2 separate regions of the Homo sapiens genome follow, and region 1 is linked to region 2. The links come from fine-mapping of genetic effects on gene expression. A gene starts in region 2. The other region holds a variant in brackets. All regions are shown on one strand. Distances are from middle to middle.

The links.
Region 1: its variant is fine-mapped to the expression of ICAM4 in whole blood (INTERVAL, PIP 0.95).

Annotation. Positions count from the first base shown.
Region 1 is chr19:10,314,666-10,325,453 of GRCh38, reverse strand. It overlaps FDX2 (ferredoxin 2), which reads left to right and starts at 9,439. Exons shown (of 5, transcript NM_001397406.1): 1 at 9,439-9,602; 2 at 9,695-9,749; 3 at 9,962-10,068. The coding sequence starts at 9,458. It overlaps RAVER1 (ribonucleoprotein, PTB binding 1), which reads left to right. Exons shown (of 13, transcript NM_133452.3): 4 at 1,888-2,079; 5 at 2,180-2,309; 6 at 2,715-2,809; 7 at 3,836-3,923; 8 at 4,195-4,406; 9 at 4,503-4,799; 10 at 6,214-6,288; 11 at 7,082-7,225; 12 at 7,681-7,764; 13 at 7,854-9,242. The coding sequence ends at 8,000. It overlaps FDX2-ZGLP1 (FDX2-ZGLP1 readthrough), which reads left to right and starts at 9,439. Exons shown (of 9, transcript NR_176052.1): 1 at 9,439-9,602; 2 at 9,695-9,749; 3 at 9,901-10,068. RefSeq lists silencers at 5,083-5,296, 8,360-8,551, 9,685-9,804. The variant A/TA (reference allele first, on the strand shown) is at 4,950.
Region 2 is chr19:10,281,698-10,291,062 of GRCh38, reverse strand. ICAM4 (intercellular adhesion molecule 4 (Landsteiner-Wiener blood group)) reads right to left here and starts at 4,108. Exons shown (of 3, transcript NM_001544.5): 1 at 3,657-4,108; 2 at 3,225-3,527; 3 at 2,543-3,077. The coding sequence starts at 4,050. The coding sequence ends at 2,959. ICAM1 (intercellular adhesion molecule 1) reads right to left here. Exons shown (of 7, transcript NM_000201.3): 3 at 7,277-7,582; 4 at 6,743-7,030; 5 at 6,406-6,660; 6 at 6,035-6,280; 7 at 4,448-5,948. The coding sequence ends at 5,776. ICAM5 (intercellular adhesion molecule 5) reads right to left here and starts at 1,111. Exons shown (of 11, transcript NM_003259.4): 1 at 938-1,111. The coding sequence starts at 1,019. It overlaps LIMASI (lncRNA inflammatory and mucous response associated, antisense to ICAM1), which reads left to right and starts at 7,613. Exons shown (of 4, transcript XR_007067138.1): 1 at 7,613-7,742. It also overlaps ICAM4-AS1. RefSeq lists a silencer at 2,187-2,256 and enhancers at 3,981-4,120, 3,467-4,436, 4,491-4,540.

The sequences.
Region 1 (10,788 bases), 34 kb before region 2:
ATCGAGGCCATCCTGGCTAACATGGTGAAACCCTATCTCCATTAAAAATACAAAAAAAAAAATTAGCTGGGTGTGGTGGCATGTGCCTGTGGTCCCAGCTATTTGGGAGGCTGAGGCAGAAGAATCACCTGAACCTGGGAGACAGAGGTTGTGGTGAGCCAAGATCCCACTACTGCATTCCAGTCTGGGTGGCAGAGCGAGACTCCGTCTCAAAAAAAACAAAACAAAAAACAAAAACCCTGTCTCTATTAAAAATAGAAAAAAAATTAGCCAGGCGTGGTGGTAGGTGCCTTTAATCCCAGCTACTCGGGAAGCTGAGGCAGGAGAATTGATTGAACCAGGGAGGTGGAGGTTGCAGTGAGCCAAGATCATGCCACCGCACTCCAGCCTGGGCAACAGAGCGAGACTCCCTCAAAAAAAAAAAAAATTATGTGAAGATGGGGTCTCCCTATGTTGCCCAGGCTGGTCTGAAACTCCTGTGCTCAAACGATCCTCCTGCCTTTGCCTCCCAAAGAGCTGGGATTATAGATTCGAGCCACTGGGCCTGGTCTCACCAAACATTTGTTGAGCATCTGATGAGTAGCAGGCGTTGAAGTGATGTCCTCCGAGGAGCCCACCTTTAATGTTAGGTGACCCAGCTGAATGGAGGGTGGGCTTGACAGTGAAGCAGCTTGAGGTTCACACATCAGTCCCTCGACTTAGGAATTGTGTGGCCTTGATCACTCTGTGACCCCTCTGAGTCTCTCTCTGTTCATCCCTAAGATGGGTGTGTTTATGGCCGGGCACAGTGGCTCACGCCTGTAATCCAGCACTTTGGGAGGCCAAGGCAGGCGGATCGCTTGAGGTCAGGAGTTCAAGACCAGCCTTGCCGACATGGTGAAACCTCATTTCTACTAAAAATACAAAAATTAGCTGGGCGTGGTGGTGCACACCTGTAATCCCAGCTACCAGGAGGCTGAGGCAGGAGAATCACTTGAACCCAGGAGGTGGAGGTTACGGTAAGCTAAGTTCACATCACTGCACTCCGGGGTGACAGAGCAAGACTCTGTCTCAAAAAAAACAAAACAAAACAAAAGCCGACAGGTTTGGTTATGGGAGATCTGTGCCCAGACCTTGGCACAGGGCGTGGGCAGAGGTGAAGGGCTGCTACCTGCACCTTTGCTGCCCGGGCATTCAGCAAGTGCCGGTGCCCAGCCCAACCACTTCCCTTAGCACTGCTACCTGGCTTGGCCACTGTCTGGAACGAGAGCCCTTCCTTCCCCACCCGTTGCTGATTATCTCTTTTTTTTTTTTTTTTTTGAGATGGAGTTTTGCTCTTGTTGCCCAGGCTGGAGTGCAGTGGCGCGATCTCGGCCCACCGCAACCTCTGCCTCACAGGTTCAAGTGACTCTCTTGCCTCTGCCTCAGCCTCCCAAGTAGCTGGGAATACAGGCATGTGCCACCACGCCTGGCTAATTTTGTATTTTTAGTAGAGACGGGGTTTCTCCATGTTGGTCAGGCTGGTCTCGAACTCCCGACCTCAGGTTATCTGCCCGCCTCGGCCTCCCAAAGTGCTGGGATTACAGGTGTGAGCCACCGCATCCGCCCGTGGCCTTGGCTTTGTTGGTGAGGTGGCTCCCAGCTCCGCCCTCCCTCCAGCTGTGTGGCCTTGGGTGCGCTGACCTCTCCGTGCCTCAGTTGCCTTCTCTGAGAAATGGGTATGATGCAGCCTCCCAGGGTCATTGGGAAAATCAGATGAGCTGATGCAGGAATGAGGCACAGGGCAGTGGAGGCCTGGCGTGGAGTTCACCCTTATGGGGCAGCTGAGTCTGGTTACGGTTGTCACTTCCCGGGGTGGTGCAGTCACTGCTGCCCAGATGCTCATGACTGCCTGCCTTCCTCCGGCAGCTGGCGTGCGGCCAGGATGGGCAGCTGAAGGGCTTCGCGGTGCTGGAGTATGAGACGGCTGAGATGGCGGAGGAGGCACAGCAGCAGGCGGACGGCCTGTCCCTGGGGGGCAGCCACCTGCGAGTCTCCTTCTGCGCCCCTGGGCCCCCCGGCCGCAGTATGCTGGCCGCTCTCATCGCTGCCCAGGCCACGGTGAGCCTGTGCGGGCAGAGGTGGCGGGGTGGGGATGGGAGCCCCATGGGGATGTCAGGGCCCCAGCGGCACTCTGAGCTGCTTCTGTTCCTTCCTGCAGGCCCTCAATCGGGGGAAGGGACTCCTCCCCGAGCCCAACATCCTGCAGCTGCTCAACAACCTGGGCCCATCCGCGTCCCTCCAGCTGCTGCTCAACCCCCTGCTCCATGGCAGTGCGGGGGGGAAGCAGGGTAAGGTGGGGCTGGACAGGGGCCCCACTGTGCAGAACAGGGGCTGCAGCGCTGCCCCCGGCACTTCCCGAAACTGCTCATCTTGGCTGCAGTGACAGGAGCCCCAGGAGTAGGGCCGAGGGGGAGTATGGAGTCATAGCGGGGGCTGCTGCTGTCCACAACTGGGGGCCGGGACCAGGGCCACACAGCAGCCTGCAGTGAGGTGGGGTGCTGACAAGAGGGGGCTGACCTTCACTGGAGTAGCCTCTGCCCCTTCTAGGCCCTTCCTTTGGGCAAGTCCACTGCCCACCCCCCGGCCCCAGAGTGTCAGTTTCCTGCCCCATCAATGGGTTCAGGGCTGTGTTTCGTGAGGTGGGGCAGGGAGGACACAGGGACCCCCACACATCCTCCTATGTCTCCCTCCAGGCCTCCTGGGTGCCCCCCCAGCCATGCCGCTGCTCAATGGGCCAGCCCTGTCCACGGCGCTGTTGCAGCTCGCCCTGCAGACCCAGGGCCAGAAGGTAACACACGCATCCCCCTCACCCACTGCTCTACAGCCCCTACAGGCTCTTTTCAACACAGCTGGTGCGATCGGTGGGGTGGGGGGACCTCTGGCTGTGCCCTGGGGGCGCAGAACCAGGGTGAGGGCGACTCCCCCAAACCCCTGCCTTTCCCACCCACATCCCCATCCCCCTCTGGCAATTGCTCATGATGGTTCGCCATCTTTCCCTCCATTCTGAGAGCGCCCCTGGACTTGGTGCCTGGGGTGGGGTCAGGGGACCTGGACACGCCCATTTACAGCCTGAAACTGGGTGTGGGCTGGGAGCGCCGCTGCTGGGCACCAGTTTGTGAATAGACTCTGCTCGGAAGCTCTATAGACATGCCTGGGAAAAAACTCCAGGTCTATCCCCTCAGTGTGTGCACACACACACACGCACACCTAGAAACACAGGTATACATATAGACTCACACATACAAAGATGCAAATATACACACAGAGACATAGACACACAAAGACATAAGACAAAGACACACACATAGACACAGACACACATATAGACACAAGACAGACTCATGCACACAGAAACAAAGACACAGATATACACGCACACACACACACAGACACACACACACATAGACATACACCCATGCTCCGTCCTGTCTGGTGTGGTTCCCTGGATTCTAAGTCAGGTGTGTCTGTCTGGTGGTAACTGACAGAATATGTGAGCCTGTGGGTCTGGCCTTCTGTGACTAAAAGTGGCTGAAACACTGTGTGGCTGTCCCATTCCATGTGGCTGCAGTTGATACTGTGCTGCAATCATTGGCCAGGGAACTGGGGCCTGGAGCTCAGGAGACCCTCGGTCACCATGGCTGATGGGACAGTGATAGAGTTGGAGTGTGGCGGGCACTGGGGAACCCTGTGCCTGTCTGCCCAGGATCGGCCGTGCCCTGGAGTTGGGGTGTGTCTGCCAAGACTCTGGGCCACACCTGTCTGCTTCCCTGGGCCACCCTGCCCCCATCTGCAACTGTCTGTGCTCTGTCCCTAGAAGCCCGGCATCCTGGGAGACTCACCCCTGGGCGCCCTCCAGCCTGGGGCCCAGCCAGCCAACCCCCTCCTCGGGGAGCTGCCTGCAGGTAACGCAGACCCTGCCCACACGGTGTCCCCCAGCCACTTCCCCTTCCTTCCCTGCTACGTGGCCTCGGGTGAGTGACCCAACCTCTGGGTCCCAGCGCCCTTGTCCATCAGTTGGGTGCCCTCCACTCAGGGCCCAGGGATGAGCTCTGCTCAGTGGCCAGCATGGATTTGTCTCTTGACCCCTGGGCCCTGGTCCAGGTGGGAGCTGGAGGGCCCTGGGGAGAGGGGTCCTGTGAGCCTGGGCCCCTGAAATCCTCCTTCCCTCCCTAGGAGGGGGCCTGCCCCCGGAGCTGCCGCCCCGGCGAGGGAAGCCACCACCCCTGCTGCCATCCGTGCTTGGCCCTGCTGGGGGTGACCGGGAGGCCCTGGGCTTGGGTCCCCCAGCGGCCCAGCTCACTCCTCCCCCCGCCCCTGTGGGGCTCCGAGGCTCTGGCCTCAGAGGCCTCCAGAAAGACAGTGGGCCTCTGCCGACGCCCCCTGGGGTAAGGCCCTGCCCTGCGCGCGGCACCACACCAGCCTCCTGTTCCGCAGGGTTCCCTCTCCCGGGGGCCCTCTCGAATCCTGCCTTCCCGCCACAGGTCTCACTGCTGGGGGAGCCCCCCAAGGACTACCGGATTCCCCTGAATCCCTACCTGAACCTACACAGCCTGCTCCCGGCCAGCAACCTGGCGGGTAAGGAGGCCCGGGGCTGGGGAGGCGCCGGGAGAAGCCGCCGCCCAGCTGAGGGCCCCCCAACTAACCCCCCAGCCCCTGGAGGTGGCAGCAGCAGCAGCAAAGCCTTCCAGCTCAAGTCCCGCCTGCTCAGCCCCCTCAGCAGCGCCCGCCTGCCCCCCGAACCAGGACTGTCTGACAGCTACAGCTTCGACTACCCCTCGGTGAGTGCCTGGCTGCAGCTCTCTGTCCCCTAAGGCCAAATCATTCTCCAAACTGATATTTCTCTAGGATTGACTATGCCAGGCCATGTGCTAGGGAGGCGGCAGGGAACGTGCCAGATATGGTCTCTGCTTTTTTTTTTTTTTTTTTTT[A/TA]GAGACAGGGTCTCCCTCTGCTGCCCTGGCTGGAGTGCAGTGGTGCGATCATAGCTCACTGCAGCCTCAACCTCTTGGGCTCAAGCGATCCTCACACCTCAGTCTCCTGAGGAGCTGGGACCACAGGCACGCACCTCCATGCCCAGCTAATTTTTAAATTTGTGGTAGAGACGGAGTCTCATTGTGTTGTCCAGGCTGGTCTCAAACTCCTGACCTCAAGTGAGCCACCCGCCTCAGCCTCCCAAAGTACTGGGATTACAGGCAAGAGCCACCGCGCCCAGCCTCATGCCCTTAAAGTTTCCCGTCTGTCTGCACATCACCCCCTGCTTCCGGTCCACCTGCCTGTCTGTCCATTCTCGAGCCCTGGAGGATCTTGGGTCTCAGTCTGTCTGTCATCCTGCGTCTGTCTTTCTCTCCCAAGAGGACTTAGGCCACACTGTCTCTCCCCAGAGACAGGGCTTGCCCTTTCTATCCCTCTCTCCCACCTTTGATTCCTGTCTGTGCCCCTGGAGATTTGGTCCTTCTATGATGCCAACCTCCTTGGCAGGTCAGAAATTGCAAACTGGGCCAGGCACGGTGGCTCATGCCTATAATCCCAGCACTTTGGGAGGCCGAGGCGGGCAGATCACCTGAGGTCAAGAGTTCAAGACCAGCCTGACCAACATGGAGAAATTATATATTATAAAATATATAATAAAATATATATTTCATATATAATATAAAATATAATTTATGTTTTATACTAAAAATACAAAATTAGCCAGGTGTGGTAGACATGCCTGTAATCCCAGTTACTAGGGAGGCTGAGGCAGGAGAATCACTTGAACCTGGGAGGCGGAGGTTGTGGTGAGCCAAGATTGTGCCATTACACTCCAGCCTGGGCAACAAGAGCAAAACTCCGTTTAAAAAAAAAAAAGAAAGAAATTGCAAACTGGCCGCCCACAGGTCACCTGGGTGATGTTTGGCCCCCTCTGTGTTTCAAACAAATAACAACAGGAACTAACGCCAACACAGGAAAACTGCAAGAGTCCACACAGCTCGAATTCCCAGCTTGCCTGGGAAACTCCAAACACTTAGGCCCATGGGGGGCACCCCCCTTCACAGCAGCCATCCCTGCCAAGCTGCATCCAGCCCCAAATTTGCCTCTTCCTGGTCCCAGAGTGGTGGGGACTGTCTTCCCTGATGACAGCTCTGCCATGGAGTTCAGCCAGGGGTGAGGCTGGGACAGACTCCAACCCAATGTGCTTCTCCCGCTTTCATTCAGGACATGGGACCTCGGCGGCTCTTCTCCCACCCACGGGAACCAGCCCTTGGGCCTCACGGACCCAGCCGACACAAGGTAAGAGCCACCTGGTATGGCATGTGTAGCAATCAGCTTTTACTACATGACAGGCTGTGCCATGACTTAGTAGCCTGGAACAGCAGACCTTGTATTTTGTGTGTTCTTTGTGGGTTTTTTTAAGACAGGATCTCACTGTGTTGCCCAGGCTGGAGTGCAGTGGCTCCATGATAGCTCACTGTGGCCTCAAACTCCTGGGCTCAAGCAATCCTCCCACTTTGGCCTCCCAAAGTGCTAGGATCACAGGCATGAGCCACCATACCATGCCAGGCATTGTATTACTTCTTGCCACTCTATGGGGCAGTGGGCGGTCCCCGGCACTCACCTGGGTCTCAGTGAGCTATGTGGCCTCACATATTTGGCGTCCACAGGCTGGAACAGTTTCTGTGTGCCCATTCGTGCGGTGATGATCCCTGGGTTCCTGGAGGAGGAAGAGGAGGCGGGTACCCACGTGCCAGCTCTCCTCAGTCCTATTAGCCAAAGCTAGTCTTTGCAAAGCCCAGAACTGCCGGGCATGGTGGCTCACGCCTGTAATCCCAGCACTTTGGGAGGCCGAGGTGGGCGGATCACCTGAGGTCGTGAGTGTGAGACCAGTCTGACCAACATGGAGAAACCCCGTCTCTACTAAAAATACAAAAAATTAGCTGGGCATGGTGGCGCATGCCTGTAATCCCAGCTACTCGGGAGGCTGAGGCAGGAGAATCGCTTGAACCTGGGAGGCAGAGGGAAGATTGTATACAAAGGGCTGGGTACTACAATTGTCTGCTTCACTCCACCGGCCCTTCTTCTACAGATGTCCCCCCCGCCCAGTGGCTTCGGCGAACGGAGCAGCGGTGGGAGTGGCGGGGGCCCCCTGTCTCACTTCTATTCAGGCTCGCCCACTTCCTACTTCACCAGCGGCCTGCAGGCTGGCCTCAAGCAGAGCCACCTCAGTAAGGTGAGGAACCTCTCTGGCCAAGCACAGGCCCCCTGGGACAGCTAGGATTTGGGGGTGCCTGCCACCGGGGCTCTGTAACCCTCGGTGCCCAGGCCAAAGCTGGGGTGGTGGCAGGGGTTGGTCTTGCTCAGGGTGGAGTAGCAACAGCCTATTGTCCTCCATCCACTCTGCATCAAGCACCTAGCACTGCCAGCATTCCGGGCTTTCTGTCACTTCCTCTCTCTACAGCCCAGGCTGTGGGTGCTACTGGCCCCATCTGACAGATGAGAAAACCGAGGCTCAAATAAAATGGAGCAATTGGCCCTAGGTCTTATAGCTAGAAAGTAGCAGAAGCAAGATTTGAACCTGAAACTGTTCGCTTTCCCTCAGGGCTGGGGGGCAGTGGCAGGGGGGCGGGGTGGGTGCTTCCTCTGGCCCCCAGGGAGTGACCTGTTCCACCTCTCCATTTCTCCCAGGCAATCGGCTCTTCCCCGCTGGGGTCCGGAGAAGGGCTCCTGGGCCTCAGCCCCGGGCCTAATGGTCACAGCCACCTGCTGAAGGTACGGGCAGGGGGTGGGGACATGCAGGGCTGGGAAGCCCCGGCCCCCCAGCGGCCCCTGACCCGCCCCGCCCTGCCCTCTGTCTCCAGACCCCACTGGGCGGCCAGAAACGCAGCTTTGCCCACCTGCTGCCCTCGCCCGAGCCCAGCCCAGAAGGCAGCTATGTGGGCCAGCACTCCCAGGGCCTCGGCGGCCACTACGCGGACTCCTACCTGAAGCGGAAGAGGATTTTCTAAGTGGCTGGCACCAGAGATAACTCAAGGGCCTGCACCAAATCGCTTTTGGGTTTTCTGATGTTTTGTTTTGTGTTTTTTTTAAACCATTTTCTCTCTTTCGGTAATAGAAAAATCTCTGAAAGACTTTACTGACCAATCAGCCGGAGCCCCAGGAGCCCAAGGGGTGTGGGGGAGTCTGGAGGCCTCATTATGTCTCTGGCTTGCTCCCCACGCTGAAACCCTGCAGCCTTAAGAGAGAGGGGCCCCGGCCTGCTCTCCCTCCCTCCCCCCATCTCCTCCTCCGCTGTGCCCGTCTCTCCGGAGCCCTCCTGCCTCATTGCTCCTGTAATTTTGGCCTTTCGAGTGCCTTGGAGGTTTCCCTGACCTCCCGTGAAGATACAGAGACTGTCTCCTTTTTTTTTAACTTTGACAACTGACTTCTGTTTCCTTTTCTAAGTTTTATTTTTCAAACCACCCCGGACAGCCCCCAGCTCTGATTCCTTCAAGGCCCGGCCTGTCCGGGCCACCATTCCACACCTTGCGGTTTGAAACAGCTGTTTTTCCCACATTTGCTGCAGGCATGGCTGTCTCCTGCCCCTGCCTGCCCATCTGGCCTATACCCCAGCCGTGGGGCCCGGGGTCCCTGCCGCAGCCCCCTCCCCTTCTGATGCCTTAAAAGCTGGGCCCCAGGCCCTGCTGGCCAGAGCCACAGATGCCAAGCTCTGGGAGCTTGACTATGGACCAAACAGCTCTGGCCTAGGGATTGGGCCACCCTACCCAGGATCTCCACCCTGGGGACAGTAGAAGGGGAAAGCCTTCATCTTGGCGAACCGGCCCCACCACCCCCTCCTACCCGGGCCTCCGTGCAGAGATGGGCTTTCTCTGCCAGTCCCCTGCTGTCTGTCTGTGGGAGTCGGACATTGTGCCCATCTCCCGGAGCCTCTGCTGTCACTCGCTTGTTGAAGATGAATTCTTGAATTCTGCCTGCCCACCCCCGGCCAGATCCCTGGAGCTGGCCTCCTTCCAGCCCAGTGCCAGAAACCAGCACTCCATGAAGATAAACTCTGGGCCCGCCCACCAGCAGGACCTGTCGACCTGAGGTGACCCTGGGCCTTGCCCCCAGCCAACTGGGCCACCAGCTTCCCTCCCTTGACTCTGGGGGTCCACATCCACTCCAAGGGGACTATTCCCCCGACCCCACCCCAGTCTCCCCACACGGACCTTTGCTGAATTAAAGTTTGTAAGTAAATGGTTTTAAAGAAATCAGAGTTGGCTGGTTCTTGGGACAAACAGTGGGCTTGAGTGGGAGGTCTGGGATGGCCCCGCGGGTTTACCTGAGATGGATTCCGCCCTGCTCTTCCCACCTGGTCACCGCAGGCCCTAAGCAAACATCTGCGCTTATGTTCCATTGATTATGGGCTTTCCCTCGCCTCCCTGGCGCGGCGCATGCTCAGTCGGTGAGTCACGTGATGCATGTCATGGCCGCCTCCATGGCCCGGGGAGGCGTGAGTGCCAGGGTTCTACTGCAGGCTGCCAGGGGCACCTGGTGGAACAGACCTGGGGGCACTTCCGGGTCGGGGGAGGGGGTGGCGCTGGGGACAACCAGAAAGTTTCAAGCGACAGGTACCTGGGGCGCCCGGGGCGGGCAGCGTTAATCCGTCAGATGCCGGCGGGGCGGGGCTCGGCGCAGCCGCTCACCGAACCGTGTTTTCCAGGCTCGCGCCCGGCTGGAGAGGAGGACGCGGGCGGCCCGGAGCGGCCCGGGGACGTGTGAGTGCAGGGGGCCAAGTCCCCCATTCCTCATCCCACGGAATTCCTCTGGTCCCCATCTTGCCCTGTAGCTTCATCTCGAGGTCCCCCTTCTGCTTTGCCCTATTCAGTACCTGTGCGTCAAGCCTCAATTCCTACTTCCTAACCCTAGATTCTACCCGGGCCCTGAGCCCATCATCCAGTTCGGCATTCGCACTTCCATCTGTCCCCAGGGTGAACGTGGTGTTCGTAGACCGCTCAGGCCAGCGGATCCCAGTGAGTGGCAGAGTCGGGGACAATGTTCTTCACCTGGCCCAGCGCCACGGGGTGGACCTGGAAGGTAGGAACCGGGCAGAGGGAATTAAGGAGGTCCTTATACATTTGTCCAAAAAAAAAAAAAAAAAAACCCACAAATTAGGTGTGTCTCTTCACGTCTTTTTCCCACCAAATATGGACTAAAATCCAAACCCCTCACCATGGCCTCATCTGTTGCCAAGCTCTTATTTGTTAAGCATTTATTAGAGATCACTAGGACTCCTGGCTCCCAGGATTTTGTGTTCTCTTCCCCCTTCCTCCCTGTATTCTAGCCACATTGGCTTTCTTTTTGTTGTTGTTGTTTTGAGATGGAGTTTCACTCTTGTTGCCCAGGCTGGAGTGCAATGGCTTACTGCACCTCAGCTCACTGCAACCTCCACCTCCCGGGTTCAAGCGTTTCTCCTGCCCCAGCCTCCAGACTAGCTGGGATTACAGGCGCCCACCACCAAGCCCAGCTAATTTTTGTATTTTTAGTAGAGACGGGGTTTCACCACATTGGCCAGGCTGGTCTCAAACTCCTGAAAGGTGATCCACCCGCCTCAGCCTCCCAAAATGCTGGGATTACAGGCATGAGCCACCGCGCCCAGCCCACACTGGCTTTCTTGTGGTTCCTCAAACAACCAAGCTCATTCCTGCTTCGGGGCCTTTACATTTGCTGTTCCCTCTGTCTGAAGTGCTTTCCCAGCAAACATTCTGGCTCTTTCTCATCCTTCAGACCTCAGTGTAAATGTCATGTCCCTAACAA
Region 2 (9,365 bases):
GAAACGCGGGCTGAGCCTGGGGAGCCAACTCCCTGACATCTTAGCGCCCCTATGTCGAGTCAAGGGTTCTCAGAGGGCGGGGAGGAGGAGGAGAGGCTGCAGCCAGGGAAAGAACCCAGGCGTCCCGCGTCCTGCCCAGGCCTCCGGTTTAAAGGCGCACTCCCAGAGTCTAAACCTCGAGGGTGTCTCTGGGACGTGGTAGCAGAGAGCCATGGTCTCCAAAGCGCCGATGGAGCGGCGGGAAAGCATGGGGGGAGGGCGTAGAGGAGAGGAAAGGTGGGTTCTTGGATGAACACAGCAAGGCTGAGAGAAGGGGACCCGGGATGGGGGATGGGGGATGAACCAGTTCTCAGGGTCCTGGCAGAATGCCGGGATACGAGGAGAGTGCGTTTGCGGCAAGGGCAAAGGAGAGACGAGGCTGGGTCAAGGATCAGGAAGGACCCTACACCCGGTGAAGAACACGGAGCCGGGACGCAAGGCTGGGCTCATGGAAGGAACCGCGGGAACAGCTGAGGGACCCGGTTGCCAGGGCTCTGGGTGGAGCGGGAACAGCGCCTCTGAGTCAGGGTAGTTGGAGAGATGGAGTCTTCGCGGACCGCGAGTGGGGAAGATGCCAGTCCGTGGACCATGGTGCACAGCACAGCGTAAGGAGGTACCCGGGGAGCGGACAGGAGAGACACTGGGTCTCCAGGGCGAAGGGTTGGGTGCGGAAGAACACCTAGGATCTCGAAGCGGGTAGGGGCTATCGAGGAGTCAGGAAGCTGGGGCTCGGGTGTGTGTTGGGGAGGAGGGGGAAGGGGAGAAGACTCAGGCTCGAGGTGGGGGCAGAGGCGTGGGAGCGAGGCGAGGGCAGAGCTGGGAGGGACAGGAGGCCGTTTCTCAGGTCCAGGGACTCCGCCCCCGCCCTGTCCACCCCGAACCAGAGCGGGGCTCTTACCTGAGAGGCCGAAGAGCCCCAGGCCCAGAGCAGCCCAGAGGCCGAGTAGCGCCCGGCGCAGCCCTGGCGAAGGCCCTGGCATCGCCGCGGCGGGGAAAGCACAGGAGGCGAGGAGAGCGCGAGCCGAGGAGCTGGGCTAGAGGACGGCTCCGCGCGGCGCGGCGGGTGGGGTGTGGGGGAGGCAGAGTTGCGCTTGGGGATTGGTTTAACGTTGGTAACTTGGTTTCCAAGGAGGGGGCGGCGGCAGAGGCGGCGGGGGGGCGGGAGGCGAGCGTGCGCTAAGCTCCTGGCCTTGGTGAAGGCGAGCTGGCAGGAGTGAGCGACCCCTGGGGTCTACGTGGAGGCCGGCATGATGGCCCAGGGCCTTCTGGGGGCGACCACGCTCTCTCGCGTCATCCCCGGCCGCGACTCTGGGATCGGGGGATGCTGGGTTGCCCTTCCCAAACCCCTACCCCAGCCCTGGCTGAGATGCCATGATAATAAGCTGGACTCCGAGCCCCGCCCCCACATTTAGCTCCTCCCACCAGCGCCCCTTAGGGCGGGGATACATTTGGGGACTAAGAGAGATTTGGGAGGCACTGGATGGGGAAAGGACAGTTCTAGGGGAGGGTGTGGGGATGCCTCTCTCACTGATCCTTCTCCTTTTGACCCCGCGGAGCCATACCTCTAAGCACCCCTCCGGGTCAGCTCCCGCACGCGACGGAGGGGGCGGGACGAAAGTGCCAGCGAGCCGAGGACACGTGTGCGTGCGCGCAGCGTTCGCGGGCGTCTAAATTAGAATCCGCTCGGCTCCGGGTCTGTATTTACCCAGGGTGCAGCGGGCACGTGTCTACTCAGCGTGTGTGAGCTCGAGCCACCCTGGAGCGCCCCTGAGTCCGCCTTCTGCTCGGTGGGTGGGGGCCCTGACATCCACGCGAGAACAAGGGACCGAGGGTGATGCTTTTGACTCCGCTTCCGGGCCCCAAGCTTTGACACCCCCCACCCCCAACTCCATGCGCTCATCTGGCTGGGTGACTACCAGAACATCGTCAGAATTCGAGTTTGTGATATTCCCTGTGGACCATCTGATCACCCCTTCCCGGCTGCCACCACATGGATACCTCTTCTGCGTATCCACGTCCCTCAATATGTCCGTGGGACCCTCCCCTCCCCACCATTCGTGGTCTCACTCCAGCGTGGTAAGTTATTTTGGAGATGAGTTCTCGCTCCACAGTTGTTTGGCCTCCAGGAAAGCACAGGGTCTGAAGGTGGGGCTGGGATAGGAAACTTAACATCCAATCAGAGCTGCCGCGTGGTGGCGGCGGCGCCAATCAGGAAAGCCATACCATGAACCCCACCCCGCCCCTGCCCGTGGCTCTCCCCGGCCCGCGCTGATCCCACTCGATAAGGCCAGCAGAAGGAGAGGTTTCTGTGACACCCGCTGGGGATACACAGAGTCTGGGGCTTCGGGACCCCAGGTGGGCCCTGAGTGAGGAAACCTCAGGTGCCCTCAGGGAGACAAGGAACTTGGAGAAAGTGATCGCAAAAACAACAACAACAACAAAAACAAACCAGTTCCTCCGAAGAAGGGCAGTAATGCGGACCCTTAGGTCACAGGACAGAGGCTGGTTAAGGAAGCCTTTATTGATTCCAGAGGGTTCCCCCGCCAATATTTATTTTTATTTTTATTTTATTTTTGGAGACAGGGTCGTGCTCTGTCCCCCAGGCTGGAGTGCAGTGGCACGATCAAGGCTCACTGCAACCTCGACTTTCAGGGCTCAAAGGATCCTCCCAACTCAGCCTCCCGGGTAGCTGGGACCACAGGTGCGGGCCACCACACCAGGCTAATTTGTGTATTTTTTGCATAGACGGGGTCTCACTATGTTGTCCAGGCTGGTCTCGAACTCCTGGGCTCAAGCGATTCTCCTGCCTCGGCCTCCCAAAGTGCTGGGATTACAGGCGTCAGCCACCATGTATGGCCATTTCCCCAGATTGTTTCATATTCCTCTTTTTCTCGCTCAGCCGGCATAGAACATCCCCCTTTACGCCTGGGACTTCATAGCTAGGCACTTGCATAGGTACGCAGCGCCCACAGTGAGGAGGATCCCTACAAGGGCAGCGATGGAACCGGAGGCCAAAGCTGTGGGCGCGGGGCTCCAAGCTGGGAGCAGAAGGCGAGAATTAGGAACGGAACACAGGGAGGTCTGTCGACCCGCGTGGAGCTCACGCTTGGTCTGTGCGCCCTCTCGGGGTCATAACTCTCTCTGCCCCCTTCCTCCTAGTCCCCAGGGTTACAGGGGTGCCTCACCGAGCATCAGTGTAATGGGTGCCGAGCTGTTGCGGACCACCAGGCCGTCGAGATTGAGGCGCGCGTGGCAGATCACGGGCTGCCAGAAGTCGCGGGGTCCAGCAGCAAACTCGTAGGTCAAGGTCACGTTGGCCAGATCCAGGCCGGTGAAGCGCTCCAGGCTTTCGGAATAGATGACCCGGCTTCCATGCCTCAGGGTCACCACCAAGTAGCCCACCGGGAACACCTGCGTCACGTGGCAGCGCAAAGTGTATTTCCTGCCCTTTAAGACCGGAGGCTCCAAAATCACGCTGTGGGGCGGTTCTAAGGCAAGGGGGAGCCTCTGAGTGAGGTCCGCGGGCGCTCCCTATAGAGCGACTGTCAACTACCCTTCCCCCACCTCTTCCAGCCCCCTCCCCTCACCCCAGCCGGGACCGAGCCCCTGTCCCTCACTGTAGGCGGTGATCCTGGAGGTGGCCCAGCGTGTTTTTCCTGCGCAGGTCACGAGGCAGTGCGCGAGGGAGCTCCAGGCCCTCACGTCGAGCAGCTGGTAAGACACCCAACCCGGCCCTCTGAGCGTCTTGCCTTGCCGCAGCGGGGTGCGGAGGCTGGAATTCTGCGGCTGGGGACAGCTGTTGCTGCAATTGAGCTGCACTGACTTCCCCGGCTGCACAGCCACGAACTCCGGGCTCATGCGCACCCAGAAGGGCACTGAGGTCCCGGAGGGCGCGAGAGGGCTACCCTTGGGGCTTTGCGCCCGCTTAGTCCGGCGTCCCAGCGCGCTCCCAACTCCCGGGTAGGCGGCCGCCAAAAAAAACAGCAGCGACAGAGGGAACAGAGACCCCATGGCAAAAAGCCCGGACTAAGGGGCCCCGCGCCAGAGAGCCAGGGCCGGCTCTAGAGATAAGGAGGCCCGCAGCCCCGCCTCCTCGACTCCACCCTGGAGAGGAAGGGGAGGCCCCAACAGAGGGCCCGGGAGTACTGCAAAAAGGGATTCCGCTCCCCAGGTCAAGAATAAGATTCCAGGCCTCATTAGAAACCAAATGTTTTTTTCTGGAGAGGAGTCTTTAGTTTTCACTAGAGACCCAGAAGGTCATAGAAAGTCCGATTTGGACCAGAACCTCAGGGTATGGCCATCAACCCACAATGTTTTCTTGGGGGAGGAAGTGGGAGGATCAGGCTGTGGCTGCTTAGAAAGGACTCCAGCTGGATGTGACACCTCCCCTCAACTCACACAAGGCTGAGGCAGTTGAGAAAGCTTTATTAACTAACACAAAGGAAGTCTGGGCAATGTTGCGAGACCCCGTCTCTGGAAAAAAAAAAAAAATCAAATTTGCCAGGTGTGGTGTTGTGAGCCTATGGTCCCAGCTACTCAGGAGGCTGAGGTGGGAGGATCACTTGAGCCCAAAAGGTCAAGACTGCAGTGAACCATGATTGCACCACTGCACTCCAGCCTGGGTGACAGAGCGAGAGCTTGTCTACACATACACACACACACACACGCGGATGAGGCTTCCAAAGCTGGGAGGGAGTCCTCCAATACCTTGGCCCCCTTCCCCACTGCTTGCAGGACCCTGATCACTGCAGGAAACTGGAGCTGCATAGTGCAAGCTCCCAGTGAAATGCAAACAGGACAAGAGGACAAGGCATAGCTTGGGCATATTCCCTGGGCACTCATGTCCAGACATGACCGCTGAGTGTCATTGTGAACACTGGCAGAAATGTATGTGGGTGGGGAGGTGGCTAACAAAGGTGTCAGTTTTGGGGGGAAGGGAGGAATAAGGCCTCACTGGGTAATCTCTGAACCTGTAACCATTACCAGTCCATATAGTGCTTTTGTGCCGATAGAAAAATCACTCCTTCTGGGGAAAGGCAGGTTGGCCAATGAGAAGTCCCAGCCCCATTTGATCTTTTTGCCAGGCACTCTCCTGCAGTGTACAACCTGTACAACTGTACCTGGTGACCTTGAATGTGATTAGGACTGGGAGCTCCGTGAGGCCAGAGACCTATGTTCATTTAGCCTACATAAAAGACACTCAATAAATAGCTGGTAAAATAACAAATGAATAAATACATATCATCAAGGGTTGGGGTCAGTAGACAGCAGTGCCCAAGCTGGCATCCGTCAGGAAGTGTGGGCCTTTGTGTTTTGATGCTACACATGTCTATGGAGGGCCACTTCTTCTGTAAGTCTGTGGGGCCTCAGCATACCCAATAGGCAGCAAGTTTCAGTATTTCCCAGTTGTATGTCCTCATGGTGGGGCTATGTCTCCCCCACCACTTCCCCTCTCATCAGGCTAGACTTTAACATCCATCAATCATGTCTTGAGTCTTGCTCCTTCCTCTTGGCTTAGTCATGTGACTACAGATCAGATGCGTGGCCTAGTGTTTTAGGTGTGCAGGTACCATGGCCCCAAATGCTGTTGTATCTGACTGAGGACAATGCCCTGTCCTCCGGCGTCCCAGGGCCGGTAGGTGTAGCTGCATGGCATATGTCTTCCACTCTGTTCAGTGTGGCACCACTGCCACCAATATGGGAAGGCCGAGGAAGAGGCCCTGTCCCGGGATAGGTTCAGGGAGGCGTGGCTTGTGTGTTCGGTTTCATGGGGGTCCCTTTTTGGGCCTGTTGTAGTCTGTATTTCTTGATCTTCCGCTGGCGGTTATAGAGGTACGTGCTGAGGCCTGCAGTGCCCATTATGACTGCGGCTGCTACCACAGTGATGATGACAATCTCATACCGGGGGGCTGTGGGGAGGATACAACAGGCGGTGAGGATTGCATTAGGTCCATGGCCCCTGCCCCCACCCAGCTCTGCCCGCCGGCTCACTCACAGAGCACATTCACGGTCACCTTGCGGGTGACCTCCCCTTGAGTGCTCCTGGCCCGACAGAGGTAGGTGCCCTCAAGATCTCGAGTGACAGTCACTGATTCCCCGATGGGCAGTGGGAAAGTGCCATCCTTTAGACACTTGAGCTCGGGCAATGGGTTCCCCCAAGCCTGGCACATTGGAGTCTGCTGGGAATTTTCTGGCCACGTCCAGTTTCCCGGACAATCCCTCTCGTCCAGTCGGGGGCCATCTGGAAAAACACGATGAGATGACATGGAGGTGGGTGGGGGCAGGACTTGGAGGCAAGACCTTATGGGACCTTCAGGGAGATTGGGCCTTGGGGGATAGGGGCCATTGACCAGCAGCCCCACTCACACAGGACACGAAGCTCCCGGGTCTGGTTCTTGTGTATAAGCTGGCCGGCCACCTCCAGGGTTGCAGAGCAGGAGAAGCTGCGCCCGTTGTCCTCTGGGGTGGCCTTCAGCAGGAGCTGGGCCCTCGGGCCCAGTGGCTGGGCTGGAACCCCATTCAGCGTCACCTTGGCTCTAGGGTGGGCCTCACACTTCACTGTCACCTCGGTCCCTTCTGAGACCTCTGGCTTCGTCAGAATCACGTTGGGCGCCGGAAAGCCTGGAATAGGCACACAGTGAGCCCCGCCCCGGGTTCAGGTCACACCCCCAAGAAGCCCCACTCCGCCCCTGCCCCTTCTTACTGTAGATGGTCACTGTCTGCAGTGTCTCCTGGCTCTGGTTCCCCAGTATTACTGCACACGTCAGCCGCTGGGTGCCCTCGTCCTCTGCGGTCACACTGACTGAGGCCTTGGCCGAGAAGGAGTCGTTGCCATAGGTGACTGTGGGGTTCAACCTCTGGTCCCCCAGTGCCAGGTGGACCTGGGCCTCCGAGACTGGGAACAGCCCGTCCAGGGAACAGACCACGGTCCCCTGCGTGTCCACCTCTAGGACCCGGGGGCTGACAAGTTGTGGGGGAGTCGCTGGCAGGACTAGGGAGAGAAGAAAGGTGTGAGCAGACAGGGATGGACGTCCCGAAGCCCTTCTCTGGGGCATTTCATTCCCCCTCCTGCGAGATCCTCTTCCAGGGCCACTCAGCAGCCTAGGTCACATACGCCTAGAACACATGCACCCCTTAGCCGGGGCCACACCCATCTCAAAAGATCCTGTGGCCACAGGCACCGCATTGCAGGATACCCCACCCCCACCTTCTCCCTGCTGGCTTCTTCAATCCTCACCAAAGGTCTGGAGCTGGTAGGGGGCCGAGGTGTTCTCAAACAGCTCCAGCCCTTGGGGCCGCAGGTCCAGTTCAGTGCGGCACGAGAAATTGGCTCCATGGTGATCTCTCCTCACCAGCACCGTGGTCGTGACCTCAGCGGGCTCCCCCACAGCTGGCTCCCGTTTCAGCTCCTTCTCCCCACGGAGCAGCACCACGGTGAGGTTGGCCCGGGGTGCCCCACCCTCCACCTGGCAGCGTAGGGTAAGGTTCTTGCCCACTGGCTGCCAAGAGGGGAGGGGTGCCAGTTCCACCCGTTCTGGAGTCCCTGCAGGAAAACAGAGGTGGGGGTGTCTGGTGAAGTGGACCTTGCTGCCTGCCTAACAGACGAACTGCACCTGCCTGGGAGCCCTACCTCTTCAGTATCTCCCCCAAACACGCCCAGACACCTAAGCAGATAGGAATGTCAAGATCTTCAGTGAAAACTGGTAAGAGGGCCCCGAGTGTTTGTGAAGGGGATCAAAATATTCCTTATTCATGACAGCAGCATCTTAGAGTGAAAAGTGGAAAAGAACTTCAAAGTCTATTGCTAGGTGTCTGGTCAAATAAATTCAGCAGCCCAGTGCACTAGACTGGGCAAACAGTGGCTCGATCTTGGCTCACTGCAACCTCTGCCTCTGGGATTCAGGGGATTCTCCTGCCTCAGCCTCCTGAGTAGCTTAGATTACAGGCACACACCACCACACCAGGTTAATTTTTGTATTTTTATTTTTAATTAATTAATTAATTAAGTTTTTAGACTGAGTCTCCTTCTGTCGCCCAGGCTGGAGGGTGATGGCATGATCTTGGCTCACTGCAACCTCTGCCTCCTGGGTTCAAGCAATTCTCCTGCCTCAACCTCCTGAGTAGCTGGGATTACAGGCACGTGTCACCACACCCAGCTAATTTTTGTATTTTTAGTAGAAACGGGGTTTCAGCATGTTGCCCAGGCTGGTCTCGAATTCCTGACCTCAAGTGATCTGCCCACCCCGGCCTCCCAAAGTGCTGGGATTACAGGTGAAAGTAAATGAGCCTGGCCTAGACATTCTTTAAAAAACAAAACAAAACAAAAAAAAAAACCTGTTGGCCAGGTGTGATGGCTCAGGCTGTAATCCTAGCACTTTGTGAGGCCAAGGCAAGAGGGTCACTTGAGGCCAGGAGTTCAAGACAAGCCTGGGCAACATAGGGAGACCCCCATCTCTAAGAAAAATTAAAAAAAGGTTGGCAGGGCGCGGTGGCTCACGCCTTTAATCCCAGCACTTTGGGAGGCCAAGGAGGGTGGATCCACGAAGTCAGGAGTTCGAGATAAGCCTGACCAACAGAGTGAAACCCCGTCTCTATTAAAAATACAAAAATTAGTCTGGCATGGTGGTGCACGCCTGTAGTCTCAGCTACTCGGGAGGCTGAGGCAGGAGAATCTCTTGAACCTGGGAGGTGGAGGTTGCAGTGAGCTGAGATCGTGCCACTGCACTCCAGCCTAGGTGACAGAGCGAGACTCCATCTCAAAATAAATGAATGAATGAATGAATGAATGGTTAACTGGGTGTGGTGGTGCACACCTGTAGTCCCTGCTACTTGGGAGGCTGAGGCAGGAGGATCACTTGAGCCCAGGAGTTTAAGGCTATAGTGAACTGTGATCATGCCACTGTACTTTAGCCTGGGAAAGAAAGACCCTGTTTCTATTAAAAAAAAAAAAAAGTCAGTAATGACAGAGTCTAATAACAAAAAGGCTGCGTGTGGTGGCTCACGCCTGTAATCCCAACACTTTGGGGGGCCGAGGCAGGCGGATCACCTGAGGTCAGGAGTTCAAGACCAGCCTGGCCAATATAGTGAAACCCCGTCTCTACCTAAAAATACAAAAATTAGCCAGGCGTGGTGTTGTGTGCCTGTAGTCCCAGCTACTTGAGAGGCTGAGGTTTACTTGTGAGGAAAGGATTACTTCAGCCCAGGAGGCAGAGATTGCAGTGAACTGAGATCGCGCCACTGTACTCTAGACTGAGTGACAGAGTGAGAGTCTCTCTCAGAGGAAAAAAAAAAAAAAAAAAAAAGCATCAGGACCGGGGGGGTCCTGC